Homo sapiens: one gene and its partners. The protein of the gene in region 2 purifies or fractionates together with the protein of the main gene of each other region. This does not show direct contact. Each region holds a gene or a part of one and is shown on either strand. Other genes may lie near its edges.

Region 1 (4,742 bases), on a different chromosome or scaffold from region 2:
CAGTGGGTCAACTGCACCGTACTTAATAACCAAGTCTCGGAACACTGAGCCATCACCTGAAAAAAAAGGCAAGATTAATTTTTTTTTTTTTTTTTTTGAGACGGAGTTTCTCTCTGTCGCCCAGGCTGGAGTGCAGTGGCGCGATCTCGGCTCACTGCAAGCTCCGCCTCCTGGGTTCAAGCCATTCTCCTGCCTCAGCCTCAGGCGCCCGCCGCCACGCCCGGCTAATTTTTTGTATTTTTAGTAGAGGTGGGGTTTCACTGTGTTAGCCAGGATGGTCTCAATCTCCTGACCTCATGATCCACCCGCCTCTGCCTCCCAAAGTGCTGGGATTACAGGCGTGAGCCACCATGCCCGGCCGAGGCAAGATTAATTTTATTACCTTGTCCAACACCATCAATTTTCAGTGACTGAATGCACCAGCAAAAACTCCCAAACTTACTTAGATGGCCCTCTGCTGCCTTTGTAAAGACGACACTTTCATTCCTAATAAGGGCTTGAAAGCAAGCTCAAAACTTGACAAAGTCACTATTACTTATAACAAGGCCTTTCTTCCAACTAATTACGATTAGATACATTCAGTCAAAAGAACTTCAAGTCCAAGTACCTGCAATGTTTCCTAGAGCCCAGACAGCTTGTTCACTGATGTGAGCATGGGGAGATGCCAACAGAGAAATGAATGCTGGGATGGCACCTCCATCTACCACAGCCTTGGTTTGTTCTGATGTCCCAGAAGCAATGTTAGTGAGTGCCCAAGCAGATTCAAACTGAATGGGACTACAATCAGTTCTGCCCAAGAAGGACACAAATTTCGGAATCAAACCAGCCCGGATTATGTTGTCTATGGGGGGCTGTTTTTCTCTGGAAAGTAGTTTCCTAAAGGGGAACAAAAAGAGAAATAAAAGTTGACAGTGATTAACAAAAGGAGTTTGTGTAAAAACCAATATAAAATGCAATTCAAGAGTTTAGAACTTCAGACAACCTTTTAAGTAAATCACTAAATGCTGAGACATTCTGGAACCTAAGAGAAGCTGAACAGATTACTTGTATGGTGCTATGTATGCGGTATAATTAACTACCATTTTTCCAGAAATTAATGTAGATTACCCTCCTTTCCATCCCTGCAGAAATCTACTCCAGATCTTGTCACTTTTTAAAAAAACTTTTCACATTCTGACAGGGTTATACTCTCACTGAATTTGTTCTGATAGTTGTGGTTAAGCACATTTTGTTTTTTTGAAATAGGATCTCACTCCACTCAGGCTAGAGTGCAGTGCCACGATCACAGCTCACTGCAGCCTCGACCTCCTGGGCTCAAGTGATCCTCCCACCTCAGCCTCCTTAGTAGCTGGGACGACAAGTGTGCACCGCCACACCCAAGTTATTTTATTTATTTATTTTTTGAGACAGAGTCTTGCTCTGTCGCCATGCTGGAATGCAGTGGCAAGATCTCAGCTCACTGCAACCTCCGCCTGCTGGGTTCAAGTGATTATTGTGCCTGAGCCTCCCAAACACGTGAGATTACAGGCATGTGCCACCACACCCAGCTAATAATTTCTTTTGTAGAAACTGGCTCTCACCATGTTGCCCAGGCTGGTCTCAAACTCCTGGGCTCAAGTAACCGACCCCTTGGCCTCCCAAAGTGCTGGGATTACAGGAATGAGCCACAGCACCCAGCCTAGAACTTTTTAATGATAATTTACCATTGAAATTTTTCTTCTGCACACTGTCAAGCTATAGAACTTATTAATCCTTTCTATTATATCATAAATATCCACGTATAGTGGGAGGTAAAGGTCAAATTATACTTATCTCCTAAATGGATCTATCATTCTAAATGCATGTCTCAATCCCACTTACTATTTATTTCTTCCTTCCCCTGCCAGTGACTTGAAACATTACTTTGGTAAAAACTTTATGGGCAGGTGCAATGGCACACACCTGTGATCCCAGCACTTCAGGAGGCTGAGGTCAGAGGACTGCTTGAACCCAGGCATTCCAGGCCAGCCTGGGCAAAATAGCAAGGCCTCCCCTCTCAAAAAAATTAATAAATAAAAAATACTATTTGGCTTATGGCTGGCTGGCCTAATCTTTCCTTGTACTATCTGTCTGTCCCTTCCTGCCCCACCCCCCAAAAAAAAATCTAAAAACACAAATTTCTTAGGCTACCCATGCTATCGCAGACAAGACTTACCTGGCAGCTTGAGTAGCTTGGAGCTGATTTTCCACATTGCTGCTATTTATGCCTTTGACAATGTCATCAACAGACCAATTTACAGTGCCCTAGAAGAAAAGTGAAAGTTTGCACATTATCATTAAGATTAAATACAAACAATAAAATCCACACTTACTTGTGAAGGCAAGTGTAAACATCGTTAGGCTTATAGCCAGCTACTAAATATTTAGCCCTACATTTAATTTTGCCTGTTAAATATTCATTATTTTATATGTAGAACAGTTTCCAAACTTGTTGTCATGGACTCACTGGAGTCTCAAGTTATGGAGTATCCAAGTGTTTTGTCGCTAAAAAAGGCAGCTTTGAACAATTTTAAAAAATGAACGAGAAGGACAGGCATGGTGGCTCACACCTGTAAGCCTAGCACTTTGGGAGGCTCAGGAGGGAGGATGGCTTGAGCTCAGGTGAGACCAGCCTGAGCAACACAGTGAGACCTCCCAACAAAAAAAAAAAAAAAAAAAAAATATCCAGGCATGGTGGTGTTTGCCTGTCGCCATACAAGACCTTGTCTCAAAAATCAAGAATCAGAGCAGACTGAAGATTATTTCTACGTTAGTCTCAATCACTTGCATTCAGATATACTTTGAGGGAGAAAGACATGAAGTCATAGGCAACGTTCTGAGGATTTTCTTTTCTTTTTTTTTTTGAGACGGAGTTTCACTCAATCCCCAGGCTGGAGTGCAGTGGCATGATCTTGGCTCACCACCACCTCCGCCTCCTGGGTTCAAGCGATTCTCCTGCCTCAGCCTCCCAAGTACCTGAGATTATAGGCATGCGCCACCATGCCTGGCTAATTTTTTTTTTTTGTATTTTTAGTAGAGACGGGGTTTCTCCATGTTGGTCAGGCTGGTCTCGAACTGCCAACCTCAGGTGATCCACCTGCCTCAGCCTCCCAAAGTGCTGGAATTACAGGCATGAGCTACCATGCCCGACTTTTTTTTTTGGAGACAGAGTTTTGCTCTTCTTGCCCAGGCTGGAGTGCAATGGCGTGATCTCGGCTCACCACCGCCTCCACCTCCCGGGTTCAAGCGATTCTCCTGCCACAGCCTCCTGAGTAGCTGGGATTACAGGCATGCGCCACGATGCCCAGCTAATTTTGTATTTTTAGTAGAGATGGAGTTTCTCCATGTTGGTCAGGCTGGTCTCAAACTCCCGACCTCAGGTGATCCACCTGCCTCGGCCTCCCAAAGTAATGGGATTACAGGTGTGAGCCACCACACCCGGCCGAGGATTTTCATATCTAATTTTATAATCTACATATTTCCACGGTTAAGTGTTGCTGCAAATATAAATGGTTTATGTTTGGCTGGGCGAAGTGGCTCGCGCCTGTAATCCCAGCACTTTGGGAGGCCGAGGCGGGTGGATCACCTGAGGTCAGGAGTTCGAGACCAGACTGGGAAACACGGTGAATCCCCGTGTCTACTAAAAATGCAAAAATTAGCTAGACATCGTGGTGATCCCCTGTGATCCCAGCTACTTGGGAGGCTGAGGCAGGAGAGTCACTTGAACCCAGGAGACGGAGGCTGCAGTCAGCCAAGATCGTACCACTGCACTCCAGCCTGGGCAACAAACCAAGGTTTTGTCTCAAAACAAAAAAAAAAGGAAGCATATTGTGAGAAAAACATGTAGGAAAGGGCCCAGATGAAAGATAAATTTGAAAATCTAAGTTAAGTCTACTTTATGGAAGGCCTTCATAGAGTAGGGATTTCTTAGAGACAGGGTCTCACTGTCACCCAGCATGGGGTGCAGTGGTGCAATCACAGCTCACTGCAGCCTCAAAATCCCGGGCTCAAGTGATTCTTCTGTCTCAGCCCCCTGAATACCTAGGACTAAAGGCCGGCGCCACCACACCCAGCTAACTTTACTTTTTATAGAGACGAGGTCTTCCTATGTTGCCTAGGCTGGGCTCAAACTCCTGGCCTCCAGTGATCCTCCCATTTCAGCTTCCCAAAGTGTTGGAATTACAGGCATGAACCACCATGCCCAGCTGGAGTATGGATTTATTTTATTTTTATTTTTTTCCTTGAGACGGAGTTTCACTCTTGTTGCACAGGCTGGAGTGCAATGGCATGATCTTGGCTCACTGCAACCTCCACCTCCCAGGTTCAAGCAATTTGGAGTATGGATTTTAAGGAGCGAAAACACAGGTCTAAAGCAGTACTTCAGGAAAAATTTCAGGAAAATAGTATATGGCATAAAGAAGGATATGATAAATTAGGAGGCTACTGTAAATATTTCAGAAGGAAAGTCCTGAACAAAGCTGGTGACAAATACAAAAACATAGAGAATACCAAAAAAGGCAGAAATAAACCAAAAACGGGAAGGGCCTGGTGGCTCACGCTTGTAATCCCAGCACTTCTGGAGACCAAGGCAGGCATATCACGAGGTCATGAGTTCAAGACTAGCCTGGCCAACATGGTGAAACCCCGCCTCTACTAAAAATACAAAAACAGGCCGGGCAGTGGCTCACGCCTGTAATCCCAGCACTTTGGGAGGCTGAGGCGGG
Region 2 (4,742 bases):
TCCTCCCCATTCAGCCTCCCATGGTGCTGGGACCCCAGGCGCATGCCACCACGCCTGGCTAATTTTTTTATTTTTATAGAGACGGGCATCTTGCCATGTCACCTGGGCTGGTCTTGAACTCCTGGCCTCAAGTGATCCTCCTGCCTTAGTCTCCCAAGGTGCTGGGATCACAGGCATGAGCCACCATGCCTGGCCCATTAGGCTTTAGAATAAGTCCGACCTGGCACCAAATCCAGGCTCTACCACTGGCCATCTACAAGATAAACCTCTCGGGTCTTACTGTCTTTATGTGTAAAATAGGTATGCAAAGTACCTGGTACATGGAAGCACTCAGTAAATGGCGGTAATTACAATAGTAAACTTGCTGTGTGCCCTGTGCAGGTAACTGCCCCTCTTTTAACCTCAGTTTCCTACTCTGAAGATGGGGATAAACATCCTGAATCCAAGCCAGGCATGCTGGCTCATGCCTGTAATCCCAGCACTTTGGGAGGCCGAGGCAGGTGGATTACCTGAGGGCAGGAGTTTGACATCAGCCTGGCCAATGTGGTGAAACCCTGTCTCTACTAAAAATACAAAAATTAGCTGGGCATGGTGGTGCACACCTGTAATCCCAGCTACTTGGGAGGCTAAGACAGGAGAATCGCTTGAACCCAGGAGGCGGAAGTTGCAGTGAGCTGAGATCACACCACTGCACTCCAGCCTGGGCAACAGAGCAAGACTCCGTCTCAAAAAAAAAAAAAAAAATCCTGAATCCAGATTTGGAGACAGGTCATTCCCTATGGTTAGGCATTTACCATTCTAAATCTTGGAAATCAAAACCAACTCTGGGGTCCGAGCACGGTGGCTCACACCTGTAATCCCAGCACTTTGGGAGGCTGAGGCAGACAGATCACTTGGGGTCAGAAGTTCAAGACCAGCCTGGCCAACATGGTGAAACCCCATCTCTACTAAAAGTACAAAATATTAGCCGGACATCATGGCGCGTGCCTGTAATCCCAGCTACTTGGGAGGCTGAGGCAGGAGAATCGCTTGAACCCAGGAGGTGGAGGTTGCTGTGAGCTGAGATTGCACCATTGCACTCCAGCCTGGGTGACAGAGCAAGATTCCATCAAAAAAAAAACCAAAAAACAAAAAAAAACTCTGAGCCAGAATAACTGCCTGGGAAGACTTAGAAATTAGGCCGGTGCGGTGGCTCACACATGTAATTCCAACACTTTGGGAGGCCAAAGTGGGAGGATTGCTTGAGGCCAGAAGTTCAAGACCAGCCTGGACAACATGGTGAGATGCCAACTCTTCAAAAAAATACAAAAATTAGCCAGGCACGGTGGCATGCACCTGTAGTCCCAGCAACTCAGGAGGCTGAGGTGGGAGGGTCTCTTGAGCCTGGGAGGTGGAGGCTGCAGTGAGCCGTGCTTGTGCCACTTTACTCCAGCCTCTGTGACAGAGAGAGACCCTGTCTCCAAAAAAAAAAAAAAAAAAGCCTTAGAAATTAGAAGTTGGGGAATACAGTTAAACATGGGATGATACATCTCAGTATATCATCCCATAGATAACTTACCAATTCATTACAAAGGGAAAGTTGTATCTTTATCATGGAGAGACCTGATAGTCACCACATTAGCTGGAGGATCCAACTCAGCATCACCAATATTGGGAATAACGACATCCCACGTCCCTTGATGTGAGACACTGAGAAGGCCACAGCATCACTGCTGGAGTGTTTCTGCCAAAAATGCATAATCTGACCTAATCTGGAAACAGCCAACAAACCCAGAATGTGGGATATTCTTTTTTTCTTTTTCTTTTTCTTTTTTTTAGAAGGAGTTTTGCTCTTGTCGCTCAGGCCGGAGAGCAATGGCACGATCTTGGCTCACCGCAGCCTCTGCCTCCCGGATTCAAGTGATTCTTCTGCCTCAGCCTCCCGAGTAGCTGGGATTACAGGCATGCACCACCACGCCGCACTAATTTTGTATTTTCAGTAGACATGGGGTTTCTCCATGTTGGTCAGGGTGGTCTCGAACTCCCGACCTCAGGTGATCCGCCTGCCTCGGCCTCCCAAAGTGCTAGGATTACAGGCATGAGCCACCACGACCAGCTTCAGAATGTGGGACATTCTACAAAACATCCGTCCTGTTCTGCACAAATGTTCAACTCACGAAACACAAAGACAGATTGAAGAACAGATCCAGATTAACAGACACCAAAGAGGCCAGGCACAGTGGCTCACACCTGCAATCCCAGCACTCTGGAAGGCCAAGGCATGCGGATCACTTGAGGTCAGGGGTTTGAGACCAGCCTGGCCAACATGGCAAAACCCCTTCTCTACTAAGAAATACAAAAATTAGCCAGGCGTGGTGGTGGACCTGTAATCCCAGCTACTCGGGAGGCTGAGGCAGGAGAATCGCTTGAACCCGGGAGGTGGAGGTTGCAGTGAGGCGAGATCACACCACTGCACTCCAGCCTGGGCAACAGACCAAGACTCCGTCTCAAAAAAATAAAACTTACCTGTACCTTATTAATACATTAATACCCTGCCAAAAGTAATCACCTTTGCTTTTTTTACTTCCAGTGTTATATATATTTGTTTGTTTTTTAATGGAGGCAGGGTATTGCTCTGTTGCTCAGGCTGGAGTGCAGTGGTGCGATCTTGGCTCACTGTAGCCTTGACCTCCTAGGCTCAAGCGATCCTCCCACCTCAGCCCTACCATGTAGCTAGGACTACAGCCATGTGCCACCACACCTGGCTAATTTTTGTATTTTTTGTAGAGATGGGGTTTTGCCGTCTTGCCCAGGCTCATCTAGAACTCCTGAGCTCGAGTGATCCGCTCGCCTCGACCTCCCAAAGTGCTAGAATTACAAGCCTGAGCCACCGCACCACGATCTGCCTTCTTTTTTTTTTTTCTTTTTTTTTGAGACAAGGTCTCACTCTGTTACCCAGACTGCTATGCAATGGTGCAATCTCAGCTCACAGCAGCCTGCACCTCCCTGGGCTCAGCTAATCCTCCCACCTCGGCCTCCTAAATAGCTGGGATTGTGCCACCACACTCGGCTAATTTGTGTACTTTTAGTACAGATGGGGTTTCACCATGTTGGCCAGGCTGGTCTCGAACTCCTGACATCAAGGGATCCGCCCGCCTCAGACTCCCAAAGTACTGGGATTACAGGCGCGAGTCACCGTGCCCAGCCAAATGTCCGACCCCTCCTTTTTTCTGAACCTTTTGGATTCCAGGCCAGGTGATAGTATAATTAATATCTGGTCCAACAATAACAACAACAGCCACCATCAAATAAACGTATAAATGCATGTGGATGGCTCCGGGGTGCAGGGGAAGCCCCAGTCCCACCCGCCCGGGGCCGCTCGCCGGGCCCACCTCGATGGCGGGCAGCGTCTTGCTGGCCTCGGTGCTGCTCTCCCCAAGGATGCTGCCGGCCGAGCGGCCCTCGCACTCGTAGCGGAAGCGCATGCCGCGCTGCTTGGGCTGCTCCGTGATGACCAGGTGCGGCTGCGGGCCCGGGCCCGGCGCTGGGGACACTAGTCGGCCCAGGGGGCAGCCCCAAGGCGGCGGCGTGGCTGGGGGCGCCACAGGGCCCAGGGTGACCGTGCTCAGGGACGCAGCCCCGCGAGACACCAGGCGTGGCAGCCCCTCGCCCGGGCCCGGCTGTCCCCCGTCCAGGCCGAAGCCGTTCTCCTTGATGTACTCGTCGATGATCTCTGCGGGAGAAGAAAAAACGGGTGGTGACGCCCATTCTTTAAAAAATTAAAAAAAAAAAAAAAGGCTTGATTACCCCCGAGACGTTTTCCATCCCATTTATCTCTCTCTCTCTCTCTCTCTCTCTCTCTCTCTCTCTCACACACACACACACACACACACACACACACACACACACACAGAGTCAGGGAGGCCAGGTGCGGTGGCTCACGCCTGTAATCCCAACACCTTGGGAGGCCAAGGTGGGTGAATCAATTGAGGTCAGGAGTTCGAGACCAGCCTGGCCAACATAGTGAAACCCCGTCTCTACAAAAATTAGCCCGAATGGTCTCCCACGTCTGTAATCCCAGCTACTCAGGAGGCTGAGGCAGGAGAACAGCTTGAACCCAGGAGGCGGACACTGCAGTAAGTCAAGATCGTGACACTGCACGCCAGCCTGGGCGACAGAGTGAGACTCCGTCTCTCAATAAATAATAGGCTGGGCGCGGTGGCTCATGCCTGTAATCCCAGCATTTCGGGAGGCCGAGGCGGGCGGATCATGAGGTCAGGAGATCGAGACCATCCTGGCTAACACAGTGAAACCCTGTCTCTACTAAAAATACAAAAAATTAGCCAGGCATGGTGGCACGTGCCTGTAGTCCCAGCAACTCAGGAGGCTGAGGCAGGAGAATCGCTTGAAACCGTCAGGCGGAGGTTGCAGTGAGCCGAGATTGCGTCACTGCACTCCATCCTGCGCAACAGAGCAAGACTCCATCTCAAAAAATAATAATAATAAATAAATAAATAGGCTGGGCATGGTGGCTCACGCCTGTAATCCCAGCACTTTGGGAGGCCGAGGCAGGCGGATCACCTGAGGTCAGGAGTTTGAGACCTGCCTGGCGAACATGGTGAAACCCCATCTCCACTAAAAATATAAAAATTGGGCATGGTGATGTGTGCCTGCAGTTCCAGCTACTCGGGAGGCAGAGGCAGGAGAATCACTTAAACCTGGGAGGTGGAGGTTGCAGTGAGCCAAGATCATGCCATTGCACT
Region 3 (2,563 bases), on a different chromosome or scaffold from region 2:
TGGGAGGCTAAGGTGGGAAGATCACTAGAGTCCAGGAGGTTGAGGCTGCAGTGAGTTATGATCGTGCCACTGTACTCTAGCCTGGGTGACAGAGCAAAACCCCACCTCTAAAAAAATAAACTTAATTTTTTGAGATGGAGTCTCGCTATCACCCAGGCTGGAGTGCAGTGGCGTGATCTCAGCTCACTGCAACTTCTGCCTCCTGAGCAGCTGGGATTACAGGTGCGTGCCACCATGCCTGGCTAATTTTTTGTTTTTACTAGAGACAGGGTTTCACCATGTTGGCCAGGCTGGTCTTAAACTCCTGACCTCAGGTATCAGCCCACCTCGGCCTCCCAAAATGCAAGTGCTGGGATTACAGGCGTGAGCCACTGCACCCAGCCTAAACTATTCTTAATTGAATGTGGGGGAATTACTCCATGGTAAGGACCCAGGGAACCTATGTAAGACTGGTTGATCTTGCATGTCCTCCAATATTCTAAAAATAATTCACACACAAGTTTATAAACCAGTCTTTAGTTTCGATAAAGGATTAACCTCCCCCAACATCCTTGAGAAAGTATAGGAATCTGGTGAGACCCAGCTGGCTTTGGCTCTCTTTATTAGAGGCACACCTTCGTGAAGAGCAGGGCGTTCATCTCATGGCAGACACAGAATCCTCTTCTTTTGCTTCACTCGATTTATAAGCATCCTGAAAACAATCACTTCTTTTTTTCTGCACAGGGTTTATATCTGTGAGTACCCAAAAGCTGTCCCCCAAGGTTCACAGAATCTTCTGCCCTCAAGGCCTGCCTCCAACTTGGGACTGTCTAAACTGCATCCTGACAAACATTATCCCATTCACCAAGCAAAGCTATTTCTCACACCTGGAGGTGCCAGGATGTTGGCCATCATTTTTGGAGAACTTCCACTCATTTTCACTTTGACCATGCAAATGAACAGTGGGTGAGGTACCCTCAAAATGTATGTTCCTTACACATCATGAAGGTGGGCAGTCGGGAAGGAAGCCCGAGTCACAGAATTTTAACTGCTGATCAAACCAAGACCAGGTGGGGCCAAATGTTTAGGTTCTTCATAGGATATATGAAGAAACTGGTGTATGAATGCAGAGAATGGGACTAGAATCCAGAAATGGTGTTCCATTTATTCACTGAAAAAGAGAGAGATTAGGCCTTCTTCATTCATTTTCTCCATTCTTGCCAAACTCCCTCCCCTCATTTTTTCCAAAATAACAACACACTGAGAAACATGTTTGTACAAAAACCACATATTATTCCCCCCCCTCACAAAATCAGGTGGCTGAATTACAGGAATAAAACCAGATCAAAGACATGAAAAGAAAAAGCCACCACTTATACTGAAATATAACAGTGTTAAGAATTCAGGTATTTTGTAGAATTATTACTATAGTAAAAATATTTCCACCTGGATCTTTTAAATTTGAAAGTGATCACATTAAAGACCTGAGGTTACAAGGGACCACAGTATGAACCAGAATTCCATTTTCCTTCTCGGACTCCAGGGGAAAAAAGAAGTATTTGGAATGAGTTTCCTTTGGGAAAGACTGGCAGGAAGTAGGTAAAACCCTGGCCATTGTCAAAAGGCACTGGGGTCTTTCTGGAGCCAAATGCATTGGAACTAAGCTCCAGTAGGAATAAACTCATTCTCATTTCCACTCCCAAGAGTCCAGAACAAAAACAAAAGGACCAAGGTCTCCTCGGTTCCCGTATTCCAGTACTCTGATGGTGACCAGGGACACCTGGTTAGAGGCAAACCTGAGGGTTTGAAAGGCAAATCTCAATTGTGGTTTTATTTTTTTGCTTTCTGATATTAAGGAAAAAAGTTCTCAAGTGTTTTATAAACACCTCCCTATACCCTCTCATATGTAAAGCTTTAGAAAATATATAGAAAAAGATATCCAAAAGATGTCCACCTTGCATTCTAAATAATGAAACTGCCACTTGAGAATGTGAAGTGAGAAAGCCAGGCGCTTTGGAAACCAAGCTCTACCAAAAACACCCTTTCCCCACACATGGAAGGACAGAAGGGAGGGAAGGACAAGAGGAAAAAACCGGGAACTCTCAAGTCACTTATCAGCAGGGGTAAATACGAGCTCAAATTAAGGCATTTTTGTGGCTTGTCCTCTGGAATGGCATTCTACCCTCCCAGCCTGAGCACCCCAAACCTCAAAGCATGATGCTCTGACTGCCAAGTGAGTTCCTTGTTACCCTCAGCATCTCTTTGAAAACCCTGTGATAGATGGAATGTGAGATCTCAGAAATGGAAGGGAGAAGGTATAAGGAGCTAATATCCTGCTTCACTTTTCCCGTCCCATCCTAACCTTAAAAGTACCGGTTGACGAAATTCCACTCCCTGGCTACTGTAACAAGAGGTAGTTTGGGGACTTGTACCCCCAGCCATCCTAACCAAGTTTCATGAGCTAAAATATTTAGCACTATCTACTTTTTTTTTTCTTTTAAAGGGTTTTTTAAAGAGGGAGAAAAAAATGCACACAAAGCAGTGAATAGTAGGCTAGACTCATTGGGGGTAATTACCCTAGACT
Region 4 (3,685 bases), on a different chromosome or scaffold from region 2:
CAGAAGAGAGGGAGTTGGTGGATGCAGATCAGCAGCCCTCACCCTCACTCTCACCCCATCCCAGGTCTGGCTTGTCTCCACATTGCCACCCTTCAGAAGAACCAACCACTCATGGAATTGCTGCTTCGGAATGGAGCTGACATTGATGTGCAGGTGAGACAGCCAGCAAAGCACTGCCCGGCCCAGGGCCTGCCCCCACCTGACACATCCCCAAGTCCCCTGCCCAGCAGTCAGAAGTGGTGGCATTCACTTCCTTATCCAGAGCCCAGGCCCAGCACACTGCCTCTGAGGGCCTTGGCTGACATCCTTATTCCTCCCCAGGAGGGCACCAGTGGTAAGACAGCGCTGCACCTGGCTGTGGAAACCCAAGAGCGGGGCCTGGTACAGTTCCTGCTCCAGGCTGGTGCCCAGGTAGATGCCCGCATGCTGAACGGGTGCACACCCCTGCACCTGGCAGCTGGCCGGGGTCTCATGGGCATCTCATCCACTCTGTGCAAGGCGGGTGCTGACTCCCTGCTGCGGAATGTGGAGGATGAGACGCCCCAGGACCTGACTGAGGAAGTAAGTGGCATATGCTTTGCTCTCCAGGGCCTTGCACACCCATAGCAGAGAGAGGTTCTGTCATTAGCTGAAAGGGCCAGGGAGCCAGGAGTCCTGGGGTATAACCAGGACTCTGCCACTGACCAACTGTGGGAACTTGAGCCTGTTTCCTTAGTTGGTCCAAGGAGCCAAATTTGGACTCTTACAGGGACCCTGCAGTTAAAGTGAATCAGTGAAGTTGGCCAGATATGAGACCATGGTGTGGTGAGGCCTATAAGAACCCAGAGAGCCATCCCTGAGGGTCTCTGTACTCAGCTTCAGCAAAGGCTTACAAAGCAGGAGTGTAGGCCCAGTTTTTCCTGGTCTTGGACTTTCTTGAGAGGTGAAACTCAGATTTTCTGTACAGTCTTTCCTATTTTTAAATGTTCAGTGTAAAAAAGAAACCTAAATGTTCTGCGAGTACCCAGCAGCCCCCCCACCCCATCCCCCAACAACAACAAACAACTCCAGGTCCATGGGCTGGATCACCTCTAAGGGTCCCTCCTAACTCGGATATTCTGGCATTATCTTAGAAAAGGAAGGCTTGTCTAAGTCCTCAGGGCTCTGCCAAGCCCAGAGGGGCCACTATTTTGAGGATTCGTGTGAAGATTTGTTCCCTGATGGTCTTCAACTGTCATTTGGTGGGGAGGGAGTGGCCCAACAGGTTTCCCTGGGTCCCCTTTCCCAAGTCACCTTTTCCCATGTCCTCTGATCTTGCTTCTCTCCATTCTCCTTCTCAGTCCCTTGTCCTTTTGCCCTTTGATGACCTGAAGATCTCAGGGAAACTGCTGCTGTGTACCGACTGAAGCCAGGCAGGGTCTGGGATCCTCAGGGCTCCACCTCTCCATCTGGAAGCCGGAGCCATAACTGCTGCAGTTTGGGCCCAGGCTATGTGCTCTTCTGGTGCCCTAGGGACTGCTGTGGCCAGAGCCTGGGGCCAGCCAGTACAGTCCTGAGCCGAGGAGGAGGGACTGCAAGTGGAAGAGAGCCAGTCTGGAAGGAAGAGCTTTCCAGGTGGACAGGGCTTCTTGGAAGACCCCCAAAGCCCCAGGTATCCTGGGTGAAGCCTGTTTGCCTCTCTTGAAAATGGCAGGTGCTCTTGTTTTACCCATGTTGGGTCAGCCTGAAACTGCCAACCAGTAGGAAGCATGGACTCTCCTGAGTGAGAAGAGACTGAAATAGGAGCAAGCAGAACCCTGAGAGGTGTCCCATCTTATTGCTGTTGAGGACCCTGAAACACCGTTGTTTAAAGACTTCACACAGAAGGCTCTGAACTGAGCCACTGGGGAAGGGAAGTTTCAGTAACATGACACTAAAATGGCAGAGACGTTAAAAAAAGTTTTTCCCTTCTAGAGCTGTTTTGCGCGCATGCATGTCTGTGTGCATTGGGGCTTTTTAGACAGGCCTGCCCTGTGACTTTGTGGTAGAGGCAGAGAGAAGGAAATTGTCCCCTGAGCACGGTAGGGCCTTGCTGGGTGGGGTCAGAGGCCAGTAGTTCCAGGCCTTTCTCTGTGTCCAGCACAGACCCTTGTCCTTGCTGTGGAAATGATGAGGGATGGAGGGACAAGAGGAAGAATGAGAGGACACACGCCCTGGAGCCCTCACCACTGCCCTGGGGGTTGCCATCTGGAGGAGCCTGGGGATAAGGGTAACCCAGGGAGGCTGGGCACGAGGGAGCTGACTCCACGTTTTTCCCCCCGTTCCTCACCTTCGAGGGCCCTGCTAGGTCACCCCTATGCTGGCATGAAGAGCATGGGGCAATAAACCAGCACAGTCTCTGACCACTTGGAGCGTCTCATCCAGTGAGAGAGACAGCCGTTAAAAGCATAAACATCCAAATAAAGATGCCTTTCCAAGTTGCAGTGGGTGCTATGAAGGGAAAAGAATAGTGGGAAGGAAAAGGATGGAGTCGGTAGAGGGTCATACTTTGGGTGGTCCGGGAACCCTCGCCTGAGGAGTATCATCTCAACTGGGATGTAAGGATGAGTAAAGGGATGGGGGCAGAGCATTAGGGGGAAAGCCTGTGAATTAGAGGAACTGAGAGCAAGCCAGTGGGGCTTCACAGCGGGCGAGTGAGTGGGCGAGGAACGCGGGCGAGGCCATGTAGAGCCTCGAAGATCATGGGAAGTGGGACAGAATTACTACCCAGCCAACAAAGCAAGGAGACACCTTCATCCTGTCAGAAAACGGGGAAACTAACACAGAGGAGCGGCTTGGGATGCAGAGCCTCAATGTCCTGTCCACAAGATGGCAATGGTCACCATGACCTCTGGGACGCTTATGAAGGGCGATGACGAAGCACAGGGGACACGCCGGGCGGGCGCCTCTTCAGGGCTGGGGCTCCCCGCGCCCAGGGGCAGCCCAGGTCCCCGGAACCCAAGCCGCGTCTGCCTCCGGGCCGCGCGGGGGCGCTGTGGTCCGGCGGCGGCCCGGGGCGCTGCGTGGTCGCGGCAGGGGCGGAGGGGGCCGCGGGGAGGGAGGCGGGAAGAGCGCGGCACTTCCGCTGGCCGCTGGCTCGCTGGCCGCTCCTGGAGGCGGCGGCGGGAGCGCAGGGGGCGCGCGGCCCGGGGACTCGCATTCCCCGGTTCCCCCTCCACCCCACGCGGCCTGGACCATGGACGCCAGGTGGGGGCTAGGGCAGCAGCGAGCTCACGTGACCGAGCCCCCGGGCCACGTGACTGCCGCGCCTCAGCACGGGGGCCGGGTGGGGTCCCGGCTGCTCGGCCGTCGGCCAGCATATCGCTGCCCGGAGCCAGCGGGGATGGGAGCTGCGGCTTGGTTTTGTGCTCCTTGGGGAGCTTCGGGCGGAGGGGCTGGGGACCCTGACGTCCCGGATCGTGGAGGGGAGTGTGGGGGAAGGGGCGCTTCCTCTGACCTGAGCAGCCGGCTAGCGTTGGAGGGAACAGAGGAGACCTGTGTGGCCAGAGGGGCGGATCCGCCCCCGGGGAGGGAGGAAGCTCTGCCTGGCCAGCGCCGGCGCACCCCCTCCCCGAGAGAGAGAGAGAGAGAGAGGCTCTTTGTCCGGGCCGGAGCTGCAGCGGAGGGGGCGGGGAGGAGACTCCGGGCACTACTCCAGTGTGGTCCCCTCTGGAGGGCGGAGGGGATG
Region 5 (4,742 bases), on a different chromosome or scaffold from region 2:
GAAATTTGGGTTATTTTCCACCATCCCTATCCCTGATCAGGGCATTATTGGCTTGGCCTAGTCTCCAGTTTACCATTCTTTTTGTCTTAGTAATATTTTGTGCAACAAATTATTTCAGAGTACCTGGGATCAGTCCACAGGTCTCTCATGGCATGGTTAAAAGGGGACTTGAGATTTGGATTTGTGCAGGCTTGTGTTCAAATCCTGGCTTTGCCATTGGATGGCTCTGTGATCTTGGGCAACATTCATGAGTCTTGGTTCCTTCATCTCTAGATGGGATTAGTAAACCTACCTTGTAGAGTTTCCTTAATGGTACCTGAGGTAATCCAGTAAAGTGTTAGCACAAGGTGGTGCTTTCTGTGTGTTGGTTTCTTTCACTCCCCTCTTCCAGGCCACATGATGCAATGGCACAAGGGTTAAAGAATTTCAGCTTTGAGGCCGGGCGTGGTGGCTCACGCCTGTAATCTCAGCACTTTGGGAGGCCGAGGCGGGCAGATCACCTGAGGTCTGGAGTTGGAGACCAGCCTGACCAACATGGAGAAACCCCGTCTCTACTAAAAATACAAAATTAGCCGGGTGTGGTGGCTCATGCCTGTAATGCCAGCTACTCAGGAGGCTGAGACAGGAGAATTGCTTGAACCTGGGAGGCAGAGGTTGCAGTGAGCCAAGATCGCGCCATTGCACTCCAGCCTGGGCAACAAGAGTGAAACTCCATCTCAAAAAAAAAAAAAAAAAAGGGAGATCAATTCAGCATGGGATTTTGTGAAAGGATTATTAGATTATTAAGTGATGAGAGAATTTACAGTGGAACCTTGACATGCTTTTTCCGTATCTTGATTTTGTAGATCAAATGTTTCCTAGATTTCAAAGCGGGAGGCTCCTTGTGCCACATTCTTGCAGCTGCCTACAAATTCAAGAGTGACCAGGGATGGTGAGATGATTCTCTCTATTCTTCTTATATTTAGTTTAGAGGAAATCCCCCTTTTTGATTCCCTGGGATCTTTCTGGGGTAGAAATTCTTGTGAGTCTCTTTATTTTGCTGGGTCAGTAGACCTGACTTACTACGTCAGGAAGATGGTTGGGAGTCAGAGCCAAAACAGTCTCCAAGAGTGAGTGTGTGAGTATCACTGTGTGTTTTGTAGAGGAAAAGGGATTCTTAGGTTGGCATCTCAAACCTTTTTTTGTCCCTTTGAAGTAAGCACAGAGAGTGATTCATGGAGTTGAGATCAGTGAACCTCAGATCCCAGGTGATGTTTGGCAATAGCTGTGAGCAAGCTTGCCTCCTAATTTCCCATATTAAGAAGTCATGGCTGGGCGCAGTGGCTCACACCTGTAATCCCAGCACTTTGGGAGGCCGAGGTGGGTGGATCATTTGAGGTCAGGAGTTTGAGACCAGCCTGGCCAACTTGGCAAAACCCCATCTCTACTAAAATACAAAAATTAGCCGGGCATGGTGGCGGGCACCTGTAGTCTCAGCTACTTGGGAGGCTGAGGCAGGAGAATGGCTTGCACATAGGAGGCAGAGGTTGCAGCTGGCCAAGATCGCGCCAGTGCACTCCAGCCTGGGCAACAGAGCGGGACTCCCTCTCAAGAAAAAAAAAAAGGCCGGGTGTGGTGGCTCATGCCTGTAATCCCAGCACTTTGGGAGGCCGAGGCAGGTGGATCACCTGAGGTCAGGAGTTCAAGACCAGTTTGACCAATATGGTGAAACCTCGTCTCTACTTACTAAAAATACAAAAATTAGCCACGTGAGGTGGTGTGTGCCTATAGTCCCAGCTACTGGGGAGGCTGAGACAGGAGAATTGCTTGAACCTGGGAGGCAGAGGTTGCAGTGAGCCGGGATCGCGCCACTGCACTCCAGCCTAGGTGACAGAGCAAGACTCCATCTCAAAAAACAAACAAAAAAGTCACGTGCCCTCACCTCATCTGCAGACCTGAGCTATACCACTCACTAGATTATTGCCTCTTCACAAGGCGGCGTTACGATTTCCAGAATCCATCACGCATGGACCGCAATGTGGAAATGTTTATGACCATTGAGAAGTCCTTGGTGCAGGTAATAGGCATATACCCTATTTATCTCCCTTCCCTCAGTGAGAATCTAAAACACCCCTTTCCTATAATCTCATTCTATTTCTTCTCTCCACAGAATAATTGCCTGTCTCGACCTAACATTTTTCTGTGCCCAGAAATTGAGCCCAAACTACTAGGGAAATTAAAGGACATTATCAAGAGACACCAGGTAAATGGTCTGGTGAGGAGAGGTTTCAGAAACTCCATGACTGTTTTCCCAGTGTTTTCTATACCAAGCAGCAGCCCTGAATTACCATGTTTTCTGCTTCAGAGGTGGCTCTGTCTACTTGGAAAAAGACTTGAGTTAAAGCCTTGAGTCTGTCTTTTTCTGTCTGCTTCTCCCATTTTTCAGTCCTGACAGGTTTGCATTACTGTTCTAGAGACTATGTTGGCCTGGGGAAAAATAGTATCCACTTCTACTGAGCTAGAGATTGCGTGATCTCAGATAAATGAAATTCCTGCTCTTTGGAACTTTATAGTAATGAATAGATGTCATTGATAAGGATGTACAGTGGACTTTAAATTTCCCATGTATAGATTATCTGTTCAGAAGATTATTTTTGGCAATTTTTAATTCTTTGACTTTTCTCCATTATTAGCACAATCCCAGCTGTTTCCCTCTGCCACTTAGCTGGTGTGTGCTTAGAGAATACAAACTAACTTTAATACTATTATAAGCAAAATATGGTTAGGAAGGCAGCTCTGTGGCTAAACCTTGAGTAATTCAGAGGGGACCATAATTTACCCGCTTCTCCTTTTACCATCCAGGGAACAGTCACTGAGGATAAGAACAATGCCTCCCATGTTGTGTATCCTGTCCCGGGGAATCTAGAAGAAGGTGAGACCTGGGTTTTCCTGTCCACTTGAGTGGATGGTTTGGACTAGGAGGCAGAGGACTAAGATCACCATTCAGTACCTGGGCTCCTCCTCTTCTTTCAATCTTGAATCCTCTTACCACCTTAAGTTCCTATTACCAAGTCCCCTGCTACAACAGGAGAGTGCATTAGTTAGGGCTTTTGTACAGTATTTTTTTTGTGTCCCCCTTTAGCTTATATCTCTCCCTTCTCTTCCTCTATCCCCAGAGGAATGGGTACGACCAGTCATGAAGAGGGATAAGCAGGTTCTTCTGCACTGGGGCTACTATCCTGACAGGTGAGGATGGGTTCCTGGGGCAGGTTTAAGTATAAGAGCCAGACCCAGAAGCCCTAGGACATCTAGCAGAGCAAGAGGCCACTCTTTCAGAGTTATTTTTAGATCACTTAATTTGTTTTCCTCTCACCTAGTAAGTGAACCTCTGTCTTGGGGGAGGTTTGGACTTAGTGGACAAGCCTTGGGCTAAAAGGATTGAGGCTTTATGTGTGAATTGATTATCCCAGCATCATTTTCGATAAGTAAATGTTAGAAACAATCTAAATGTCTAACAGTAGGAAAATGTTTCAGTAAATTTGTATATCTACTCAGTGGACTATTATGCAGTCTTTAAAGTGATATAACATGGATAATTTATAAGTGAATATTATTAATAATTGCAAAAAGTAGCATGTAGGCCTGGCATGGTGGCTCACGCCTGTAGTCCCAGCACTTTGGGAGGCCAAGGCAGGCGGATCACCTGAGGTTAGGAGTTCGAGACCAGCCTGGCCAACATGCTGAAACCCCGTCTCTACTAAAAATACAAAAAAAAAAAAAAAATTAGCAGGGCGTGGTGGCACACGCCTGTAGTTTTAGCTACTTAGGAGGCTGAGAAGCAGGATAATCGCTTGAACCGGGGCAGCAGAGGTTGCAGTGAGCCAAGATCACACCACTGCACTCTAGCCTGGGCGACAGAGCGAGACTCTGTCTCAACAAAACAAAACAAAACAAAAAATAGCACGTAGGCTGGGTGCAGTGGCTAATGCCTATAATCCCAGCACTTGGGGAGGCTGAGGTGGGCAGATTGCTTGAGCCCAGGAGTTTGAGACCAGCCTAGGCAACATGGTGAAACCCTGTCTTTACAAAAAAAAAAAATACAGAAATTAGCTGGGCATGGTGGCATGCACCTGTAGTCCTAGCTACTTGGGGGGCTGAGGTGGGAGGATTGCTTGAGCCCAGGAGGTTGAGTCTGCATTGTGCCATGATTGCACCACTGCACTTCAACCTGGGCAATAGAGCAAGACCCTGTCTCAAAAAAAAAAAGCATGTAAAATATCATCTAGTATGGTTATGATTATGTAAAAACATCATCTAGTATGGTTATGATTATGTAAAAAGAAAATTGTGGACCAGGCACAGTAGCTCACTCCTATAATACTAGCACTTTGGGAAGCCAAGGCAGGAGGATCACTAAAGGCTGGAAGTTCAAGACCAGCCTAGGCAGCAAAGTGAGACCCTGTCTTAACAAAAACAAAAACCCCAGCTGGACGCGGTGTCTCATGCCTGTAATCCCAGCACTTTGAGAGGCCGAGGTGGGTGGATCACGAGGTCAGGAGCTTGAGACCAGCCTGGCCAAGATGGTGAAACCCCGTCTGTACTAAAAATATAAAAATTAGCCGGGCGCAGTGGCAGGCACCTGTAATCCCAGCTACTCGGGAGGCTGAGGCAGGAGAATCGCTTGAACCCGGGAGGCGGAGGTTGCAGTGAGCCGAGATCGCGCCACTGCACTCCAACCTGGGTGACAGAGCAAGAGCAAGACT
Region 6 (4,152 bases), on a different chromosome or scaffold from region 2:
CCATGAGAATGGCCTCTCAGCTGCCACCGATCAGGATTCCCCTCACCCATCAGTGTGAAGGGTTGGATGGCTTATTTATGTCCAAATTCCTGCGGCAGGTGTTCAGTGTCGTCTGGGGTGAGGTTGGAGGGAACCTGCCTGGTGTGGGAGCTGGGGTCATGATGGGAGAGGGGGCTGACTACAGGGGCCACACACAGACAGCACATTTGTCCTGGCAGGTTGGCTGGTCTGCCAAATGCATGTACCATCTCCAAAGGAGGTCTCAGGGGGACAAAATCTTCTCAGAGGACACTACTGGGGGTCTGTGAGGTGGTCTGGGGAATAGCATCCTTTTTTTGAGATGGGGTCTTGCTCTGTGGCCCAGACTGGAGTGCAGTGGCACGATCATAGATCACTGCAACCTCAACATCCAGGGCCCAAGTGATCCTCCTGCCTTGGCCTCCCAAAGTGTTGAGATAACAGGTGGCACCTGGCCTGAGAGGAGTATTTTTATGTCCCCAAACCACAAATTTGCCCACATGGATGCATCCGTCCCACGTGCTCCATTTCCACATTGCCTGTAGGGCAGCTCATGTCTGCAGATTGAGTAGCAGTCCTGGGTCCAGACAAGCCAAGCACCCACTCCAGGGACCGACTCGGGTAGCACATGAGGTATACTGACCTCCTGACAAGCCCTGAGCAATTCTGTGACCTCTGTACCTCAGTATCCCCATCCGAAACTGGAGATGACAACTCTTGCATGAGATTGTTGTGAGGATTACGTATCAATATTTGGAAAATATTTTGGAAAAAACTGGGCATGCCATTGGTGCTTGGAATCGTGCCTGGCACACAGAGGGTGCTTTCAAAGCACTTAGAACAGCAGTACCCAGCCCACAGCTGGTGCTCACTAACCACTCAGAGCTGCACCCATCACACATCTGGCCTTTGATAAGAACACAGAACACAGGCACAAAACTGGTGCTTAGTTAAGTCCATGGAGGAAAAAACCACACTGCTGAGTGGGGAGCAGACTGGTGCTTTATATATACACACACACAGCAGAAGGTACAGGGCCTCAATAAGAAAATACACTCTGTGTTCAGGTGAACCCCCATCACCACCCACGCAGAACACTCTGGGCTGAGGAGAGGGAAGGGCACGACCATAAATAAAGACTAGAAGGGAGGGTCACTGCTGGAAGGGCAAACACAGGCGGGGCGCGCACTGCTAGGAGGAGACACGACCTGTTCTTTCCCGGGAGAGAGCGATGCAGCGGCACAGGAGAACAGTAGCCACGACTAAGCCTGCAATGCCTGGCGGGGGCACCTAACACGAATAAGAGAAGCGGGGCGGACACGAGAAGCGAGATTGCAGAGAGGGCTTTTTTTTTTTTTTTTCTGTGGCAGGACCCAGGGCTCTCAATTAACATCCATGAACTCAGAGCTGGGTGGGGAGCTGCAGGCAGGGGAGGCTGGGGCGCCAGATGAGCCGGCCGGGGACAGCAGGCGTCGCGCCACGTCCTGGCGTTGGTAGAAGAGGACATAGGCTGCCTTGGACTGTGGGGAGAGGACAGGAGTCAGTGTGGATTGTGGGGGTGGGGAGGTGGAATCAGAAAGGAAGAAGGGGAGGAGGTAGGATGGAAGTCACACCTCGATCTGATTCTCATTGACAGGGGAGACGCTGTTGTCATCAAAGTAGTGCCACTGGCCGCTGTCCTTGTTGCAGGCAAATGTTGTGTCTGAAAGGGAAGGAGAGTTATCCTCGCCTACCCTTCCTGCCTCTCAGAAGTGTCCAGATTCACTCTTGTCACTCCTCCCACCACGATAACCTCACCACTGGCTCACATCCCTAGTCACTCACTGGGAAGGTCCTGATCGCCCCCCTGCCCAGAACCCCCAGGGCAGGCCCCACCCACAGCCTGGCACATACAGTGTCCATCACGCATGCCCCCATAATGGTTGGAAACCGCGATGAGGTCATATTTGTACAGCTCCGGATTCGACTCATTCTGTGGCTGGATGACAAACTCAGAGAAGTCCAGGTCCCTGTGGGTGGGGAGAGGGTTAATACTGGTACACCCCCTCCTTTCCCTGCCTTCCCCCAGCCATCCTCTCCCTGGCCCCTGACCGGATAGGAAACTCCACGAGGGTGTCCAGCTTCTCTCGGGAGAACTTGGTGTAGGAAAAGCGTTTCAGGTGGATGATGAGAATCTCCGGCAGCATCCACAGGTCCAGCTTCTTGGTTGCCAGCTGGTGCTGCTTGCAGGAAGGGCAGTACCTACAGACAGAGCCCGAGTCAGCAAACGGACTTTTTCTTTTTTTTTTTTTTGAGACAGAGAATCGCTCTGTTGCCCAGGCTGGAGTACAGTGGCGCGATCTCGGATCACTGCAGCCTCCACCTCCTGGGTTCAAGCGATTCTCCTGCCTCAGCCTCCCGAGTAGCTGGAATTACAGGCATGCACCACCATGCCCTGCTAATTTGTGTATTTTTAATAGAGACAGGGTTTCACCATGTTGGCCAGGCTGGCCTTGAATTCCTGACCTCAGGTGATCCACCCGTGTCGGCCTCCCAAGGTACTCGGATGACAGGCATGAGCCACAATGCCCAGCCAAAACAGACTTTTTCTGAGCACCTACTGTGCGCCCTTTGTACTGCCTCTCACGTGCCATGTCTGGCTCACAGAAACACTGCTCTTACTATTAGCCCATCTAGTATTCTAGTTTGCTCTGTTCCTGTTAAAATCCTTTCACTCACTCGTCAAGTGCTTACTATCTTTTGTATATGTGCTCATACTATTTTTTGTATTTTTGTTTGATTTCTGTTCCATGAGATGCTAGTCTTATTTTAGAGCCCACCTCTATCCTTCTAGTTTCCTCTCTTCGTATTTTAGTCATTCATTCACTCCCCAGTATTTATTGATTGCTTGTTTAACCCTTTGGAACTATTTTGTATTTCTGTTCCATTTCTGCTCCACGGACATGCTGCTCTTATTTCTGAGACTAGGGAGTGTGGTTTTGGTTCTCTTTTTGTTTATTCTGCAAGTGTCTACTGAGCATCAACCGAACACTCAACACTATTATAAACAGGTAGAAGCAACACACAGTGAACTTAAGTCTTCACCCTCGAGGAGTTGACTCTAACGAAGATGACAAATAACACAAAAGTGGATACAGGACATCACATCAAGTGGCATCGCTGAGCTAGAAAGTAATGCTTGGCTAGGAAGAAAAGAGCAGAGAGGGGATGGAGAGGGATGGTGGGGAAGGGTGATTTTTAACAGGGTAGTCAGAGGAGGTCTCTCTGATGAGGTCACATTTGATCGGAGACCTGAGCATCGTAAGGAGTGAAGTCCTGTAGATCACTGGGAACAACATTCCTGGAGAAGGAACAGCACAGGCCAAGGCTCTGGGGTAGGAGTCTGCTCAGGAGATTGGTGGCCAGGTTGGCAAGAAGGGTTTGAGTGTGGAGGAGGGAGGAGGAAGGTATACTTAAAGAGCTAAATATAGGCCAGGTGTGGTGGCTCACGCCTGTAATCCCAGCACTTTGGAAGGCCAAGGCGGGTGGATCATCTTTAGTCAGGAGTTCGAGACCAGCCTGGCCAACGTGGCAAAACCTGTTTCTACTAAAAATATAAAAATTAGCCAGGCATGGTAGTGGGTGCCTATAATCCCAGCTACTCAGGAGACTTAGGCAGGAGAACAGCTTGATCCTGGGAGGCAGAGGTTGCACTGAGCCGAGATTGTACCACTGCACTTCAGCCTGGGTTGACAGAGCCAGACTCTGTCTCAAAAAAAAAAAAAAAAAGCTAAATATAGTAGTTCCATCCAATGAAACCCCCACACACAGGCCCCGCTCTGGCCCCTCACCAGGGGTTTTCCTTCTCCAGGGTCTCCACAGTGGTGAAGAGCTCAATGCACTCCTGCAGCCGCACGGGAGCCTTCTTCATCACGTACCCGACGCAGTCATGCTTCACGTAGCCCTAGGATTGGGTGAACAGACAACCAGATGGCCGGCTGTGAGGACAGATGGAGAAATGGGGAGTGGGGGCCCAGCGGGGGAGACACACACTGAGTGGGTCAGAGCACCGACTTTGAAGCTAGGAACCTCAGGCCCTGGAGCTCTCAGTAGGTGTTCAGGCCCCAAGGCCAAGCTTGACCTGGATCTCTTGGC
Region 7 (4,742 bases), on a different chromosome or scaffold from region 2:
ACTGCATGTTCTCACTCACAGGTGGGAATTGAACAATGAGAACACTTGGACACAGGGCGGGGAACATCACACACTGGGGCCTGTCGTGGAGTTGGGGGCAGGGGGAGGGATAGCATTAAGAGAAATACCTAATGTAAATGACGAGTTAATTGGTGCAGCAAATCAACATGGCACATGTATACCTATGTAACAAACCTGCATGTTGTGTACATTTACCCTAGGACTTAAAGTATAATTTTTAAAAAAGAAAAAAAAAAAAGAAATGGCTAAAATATATAGTAGTCTAGTGACTAAAGAATACAAAGGATTACTTCCCAGATTTTGAATGATGTACTTCAGACTCCTGCAGCATCATACTGCCATTAATTCACATTAGCACTACATTACTGATCTGCATCCAGTCTGTAGCCTGCTATAATCCCAGAGTTTTCTATTTTGTATTAATACATTATAACTATCTAATATATTCCAAATGTCATGTTTGCGACAATGTCTCTTTGCATCTACTTTGTACTTTAAATCTCCCATACCTTGTAACTGTACCATTTCTCCATTATGTTATCACTTTCATTTTTTTCTTCTGTAGTATCTAAAAATTTGATTAATACAGTCTCAAATTATTTATGTCACGAGTAAATCTTCCACTCCATTATCAAAAGCATCACGGAGATGATAAAGCAAAATAAGATTGAATTTCTGATACTTGTCTAAAATAAGCTCTAAATGAGACAGACAGATAAGGAATGACTATTTTAGTGGCAGTATGCCTTCTGATGTCCGGTGGTTGATCTCAGGCCATCCAGTATGAGCCTGGAACTACACATATCAGAGTTTTCCCAATGTTTCTGCTAAAGGCCTGCTAACAGCAGAGGACTAAGAGGTTCTCTATAAGCCTCAATAAAACAAGACAAACAGATCTGACATCAAAATAAACAAGTAACAAAAACAGTAGCCCAAAGCACAATAAATCAATTATCATGTACAATCCATTAATATTTAAGTATTAGCAGCTAGAAAACTAGTACCAAGGGAGAGAAAGTGGACACACTTTCTAAAAGATATCTTACATCAGCAGTTCCACAAGTCTCCTACATACTCCCGCATCGATGACCGCTTGAATTTTATCATTGGGTCCATCTGATAGATATGAGAGGGCCCAGCAGGCATCAGCCAGTACATCAGTGTCACTGACAAACAGCAACCAGGAAAGCACATTCAGACATGGAGAAACCTGTAAAAGGAAAATGATGATTATGAAATTCAATAGACTAAAAGCCAGAAGTGAGGTGAGATACTCAAGAAGGCAACCAGGCATGTACTTGGTGACTTCTAGGGTGATTTACACTTCTAAAGATGAAGCAGCAAGTACCTAAGTGGCATTTCCATCTTTGGCAATGTTGTCAGTGATCTTGCACTAATCTGTAGTCAAAGCCCAAGGAAAATAATTTCAGAGAGCAAAGTTTTATATACATCAATTCTTGGAGTAAGACTCCCTATCAAAACACATTCTTTGTGGACTAAACAGGTAAAGGAACTTTCACAAATGTGAAAACTAGGAAATTCTGTATTTTAGATACTTTGTTAAAGACCAAAAATGCTAAGGTTTTGTTCAGTGAAAAATGATTCCAAATTAAAAACAACTACAAAAATACCCATTTATTTTAATATCCAGAATCTGCAAGAAATTCAAATCAGCAAGAAAAAAAAATCCCATCAAAAAGTGGGCTAAGGACATGAACAGACAATTCTCAAAAGAAGATATACAAATAGCCAACAAACATATTAAAAAATGCAGCTGGGCGTGGTGGCTCACGCCTGTAATCCCAGCACTTTGGGAGGCTGAGGTGGGTGGATCACCTGAGGTCTGGAGTTCAAGACCAACCTGGCCAACATGGTGAAACCCCGTCTCTACTAAAAATACAAAAATTAGCCGGGTGTGGTGGTATGCGCCTGTAATCCCAGCTACTCGGGAGGCTGAGGCAGGAGAATCACTTGAACCTAGGAGGCAGAGGTTGCAGTGTGCCGAGACCGCGCCACTGCACTTCAGCCTGGGCAACAAGAGCAAAACTCCGTCTCAAAAAACCAAAAAACAAAAAATAGATGTTGGCATGAATGTGGTGAAAAGGGAACACTTTTACACTGTTGCTGGGAATGTAAACCAGTATAACCACTATGGAAAACAGTGTGGAGATTCCTTAAAGAACTAAAAGTATATCTACCATTTGATGCACCAGTCCCATTCCTGGGTATCTACCCAGAGGAAAAGAGGTCATTATAAGAAAAAGATACTTGTATACGCAGGTTTATAGCAGCACAATTCACAATTGCAAACACATGGAACCAGCCCAAATGCCCATCAATCAACAAGTAGATAAAGTCACTCAGGACTGGAAAACCAAACATCAGATGTTCTCATTCATAAGTGGGAGCTAAGCTATGAGGACGCAAAAGCGTAAGAATGATACAATGTACTTTGGGGACTCAGGGAGAAAGGGTCGGAGGTGGGTGAGAGATAAAGGACTACACACTGGGTACAGCGTACACTGCTTGGGTGTTGGGTGCACCAAAATCTCAGAAATCACCACTAAACAAGTAACTCATGTACCTAAACACCACCTGTTCCCCAAAAACCTATTGGAAAAAAAAAAAGAATCTCATGGACTCCCAGAGAACTCACAGACCACACTTTGAGAACCACTGTTTTAAGAGAACTGAAAGGATAGTCTCCTAAACAGTATACTAATTGTATGAAGCCTAATTTCAATAAGCTTTACAAATTCTTCCTTCATGCTATGCTTTATTTGCAGTCCCATCGTAAATGTGCACCTTCAAGCTATGCTCTAAATTTGCTTTTTAAATAATAAAGAGAACCAACAAAAACAACAACAACCCTGTTTCTCCAAAAACAGATAAAATTCTAACATTTTAAATTTTAACAAAAATTATCTTCCTGTTCACCTTACCATTGGTTGCAATACTCTTTTAATTGTATTTTTTCTGCCAATGTCCCAAAAGCATAGTCCTTACCTTTGCAAATTCTGGAGGTGGACTTTTCCCTCTACAGAGATTAGACAAAGCCCATACTGCATTCCGGGTCATGGTCAGGCGGTTTTGCTTTGAAAATAACCTAAAAGCACGATGGTACAATGGTAAACTATGTAACAGACAGTGATTATCTGATGACATAAATACTAAATAATAATACTTTTGATAAAGAGATGTCTTCAGATAGCTTTTCTCCAGAACATTAAAACTTCATTAATTCTGATGCAAGTAATTCAGAATTCAGAATTTTGGCATGGAAAAAGATAGGGTGCTTGAGGAAATGATCTAAACAAGAAAATATCTGGAATTAAAAATAACACTAGAAAATCCAAAATGATTTCCAAACATGTAATGCTTTCTGAGGAATCTCTTACATTTTTATTCTCAAAAAGAAAAAAAAAGGAAGAAGGAAGAAGAAACTTACTGCAAAAGAGGGGGAAGGATATTGCAGTCTAAGACATAGTCCCTGCACATGGTACTATCTCCAGCAATGTTGCCAAGAGCCCAGACTGCCTGTGAAAGAATCATTCATTAATAAAGGTTACATAGTTTAATTCCCTCATAATTCTTTCAGATGCCAGTATATCACAATAACACGTTCATCAGGGAGTCAAATGAAACAGTTGTAGGATTGGGGGAGGAAGATAAATAATATCCTAAAGTGTACAACAAACAGAAGGTATTCGGTTTATTAAAGGAAAGAACTAATTCATTTTTGTTTGTTTTTGTTTTTTGATACAGAATCTCGCTCTGTCACCCAGTATGGAGTGCAACACAGTGAAACTCCATCTCTACTAAAAATACAAAATTAGCCGGGTGTGGTGGCAGGCGCCTGTAATCCCAGCTGCTTGAGAGGCTGAGGCATGAGAACTGCTTGAACCTGACAGGCCAAGGTTGCAGTGAGCCGAGATTGAGCCAATGCACTCCAGCCTGGGTGACAGGGACAGACGGAAGGAGGGAAGGAGGGAAGGAGGGAAGGAGGGAAGGAGGGAAGGAGGGAGGGAGGGAGGGAGGGAAGGAGGGAAGGAAGGAAGGAAGGAAGGAAGGAAGGAAGGAAGGGAGGGAGGGAAAGGAGGGAGGGAGGAGAGAGGGAGGGAGGGAGGGAGGGAGGAAGCAAGAGAAGGAGGGAAGGAGGGAGGGAGGGAGAGACGGAGAGACGGAGGGAAGGAGGGAAGGAGAGACGGAGGGAAGGAGAGACAGAGGGAAGGAGAGACGGAGAGAAGGAGAGATGGAGAGACGGAGAGAAAGAAAGACGGAAAGATGGAGAGACAGAAAGAGAGAAAGACAGAAAGAAAAAAAGAGACAGAAAGAGAGTATTTTCTTGCTTACATAAGAAAACAGTGAACAAAAAGAAACTTGCTTTCTGTACTTTTCTGCACAAAAGTGGCAAAGACTAGCCACTTTCTTTTTTTTTGAGATAGGTCTCACTCTGTTACCGAGGCTGGAGTGCGGTGGTGTGATATCGGCTCACTGCAGCCTCAGCCTCCTGGAGCTCAAGTGAACCCTCCCACCTCAGCCTCTCAAGCAGCTGGGACAACAGGCGTGTGCCACCATGCCCACCTACTTTATTTTCTGTAGAGACTGGGTTTCGCCATGTTGCCCTGGCTGGTCTCGAGCTCCTGGGCTCAAGCAAGCTGCCCACTTCAGCCTCCCAAGTGCTGGAATTACAGGCAGGAACCACAGCACCTGGCCTACTT

What was found.
Region 1: the proteins of RELB (region 2) and KPNA2 purify together in Homo sapiens (affinity purification with mass spectrometry; 2 studies listed by BioGRID and IntAct, with this or other methods). This does not show direct contact.
Region 3: the proteins of RELB (region 2) and SMARCC1 purify together in Homo sapiens (affinity purification with mass spectrometry; 2 studies listed by BioGRID and IntAct, with this or other methods). This does not show direct contact.
Region 4: the proteins of RELB (region 2) and NFKBIE purify together in Homo sapiens (affinity purification with mass spectrometry; 4 studies listed by BioGRID and IntAct, with this or other methods). This does not show direct contact.
Region 5: the proteins of RELB (region 2) and SMARCC2 purify together in Homo sapiens (affinity purification with mass spectrometry; 2 studies listed by BioGRID and IntAct, with this or other methods). This does not show direct contact.
Region 6: the proteins of RELB (region 2) and USP11 purify together in Homo sapiens (affinity purification with mass spectrometry, with the first as the bait; 2 studies listed by BioGRID). This does not show direct contact.
Region 7: the proteins of RELB (region 2) and KPNA1 purify together in Homo sapiens (affinity purification with mass spectrometry; 2 studies listed by BioGRID and IntAct, with this or other methods). This does not show direct contact.

The regions. Positions count from the first base shown.
Region 1 is NC_000017.11:68,038,219-68,042,960, reverse strand, and holds part of KPNA2 (importin subunit alpha-1), read right to left. Parts: intron 2,284-4,742; coding exon 2,195-2,283; intron 877-2,194; coding exon 608-876; intron 57-607; coding exon 1-56.
Region 2 is NC_000019.10:45,010,906-45,015,647, reverse strand, and holds part of RELB (transcription factor RelB), read right to left. Parts: intron 3,713-4,742; coding exon 3,372-3,712; intron 1-3,371.
Region 3 is NC_000003.12:47,584,769-47,587,331, forward strand, and holds the end of SMARCC1 (SWI/SNF complex subunit SMARCC1), read right to left. Parts: 3' UTR 501-2,563; downstream 1-500. UniProt on the Homo sapiens protein: Involved in transcriptional activation and repression of select genes by chromatin remodeling (alteration of DNA-nucleosome topology).
Region 4 is NC_000006.12:44,256,919-44,260,603, reverse strand, and holds the end of NFKBIE (NF-kappa-B inhibitor epsilon), read left to right. Parts: intron 1-64; coding exon 65-153; intron 154-321; coding exon 322-561; intron 562-1,319; coding exon 1,320-1,385; 3' UTR 1,386-2,438; downstream 2,439-3,685. Other genes in the region: SLC35B2 (adenosine 3'-phospho 5'-phosphosulfate transporter 1), read left to right, coding at 3,194-3,204. UniProt on the Homo sapiens protein: Sequesters NF-kappa-B transcription factor complexes in the cytoplasm, thereby inhibiting their activity. Sequestered complexes include NFKB1-RELA (p50-p65) and NFKB1-REL (p50-c-Rel) complexes.
Region 5 is NC_000012.12:56,182,344-56,187,085, reverse strand, and holds part of SMARCC2 (SWI/SNF complex subunit SMARCC2), read left to right. Parts: intron 1-845; coding exon 846-931; intron 932-1,974; coding exon 1,975-2,056; intron 2,057-2,149; coding exon 2,150-2,242; intron 2,243-2,841; coding exon 2,842-2,911; intron 2,912-3,155; coding exon 3,156-3,225; intron 3,226-4,742. UniProt on the Homo sapiens protein: Involved in transcriptional activation and repression of select genes by chromatin remodeling (alteration of DNA-nucleosome topology).
Region 6 is NC_000023.11:47,245,179-47,249,330, reverse strand, and holds the end of USP11 (ubiquitin carboxyl-terminal hydrolase 11), read right to left. Parts: intron 3,962-4,152; coding exon 3,849-3,961; intron 2,260-3,848; coding exon 2,110-2,259; intron 2,028-2,109; coding exon 1,912-2,027; intron 1,721-1,911; coding exon 1,632-1,720; intron 1,539-1,631; coding exon 1,401-1,538; 3' UTR 1,003-1,400; downstream 1-1,002.
Region 7 is NC_000003.12:122,448,507-122,453,248, forward strand, and holds part of KPNA1 (importin subunit alpha-5), read right to left. Parts: intron 3,559-4,742; coding exon 3,470-3,558; intron 3,128-3,469; coding exon 3,028-3,127; intron 1,232-3,027; coding exon 1,068-1,231; intron 1-1,067. UniProt on the Homo sapiens protein: Functions in nuclear protein import as an adapter protein for nuclear receptor KPNB1. Binds specifically and directly to substrates containing either a simple or bipartite NLS motif.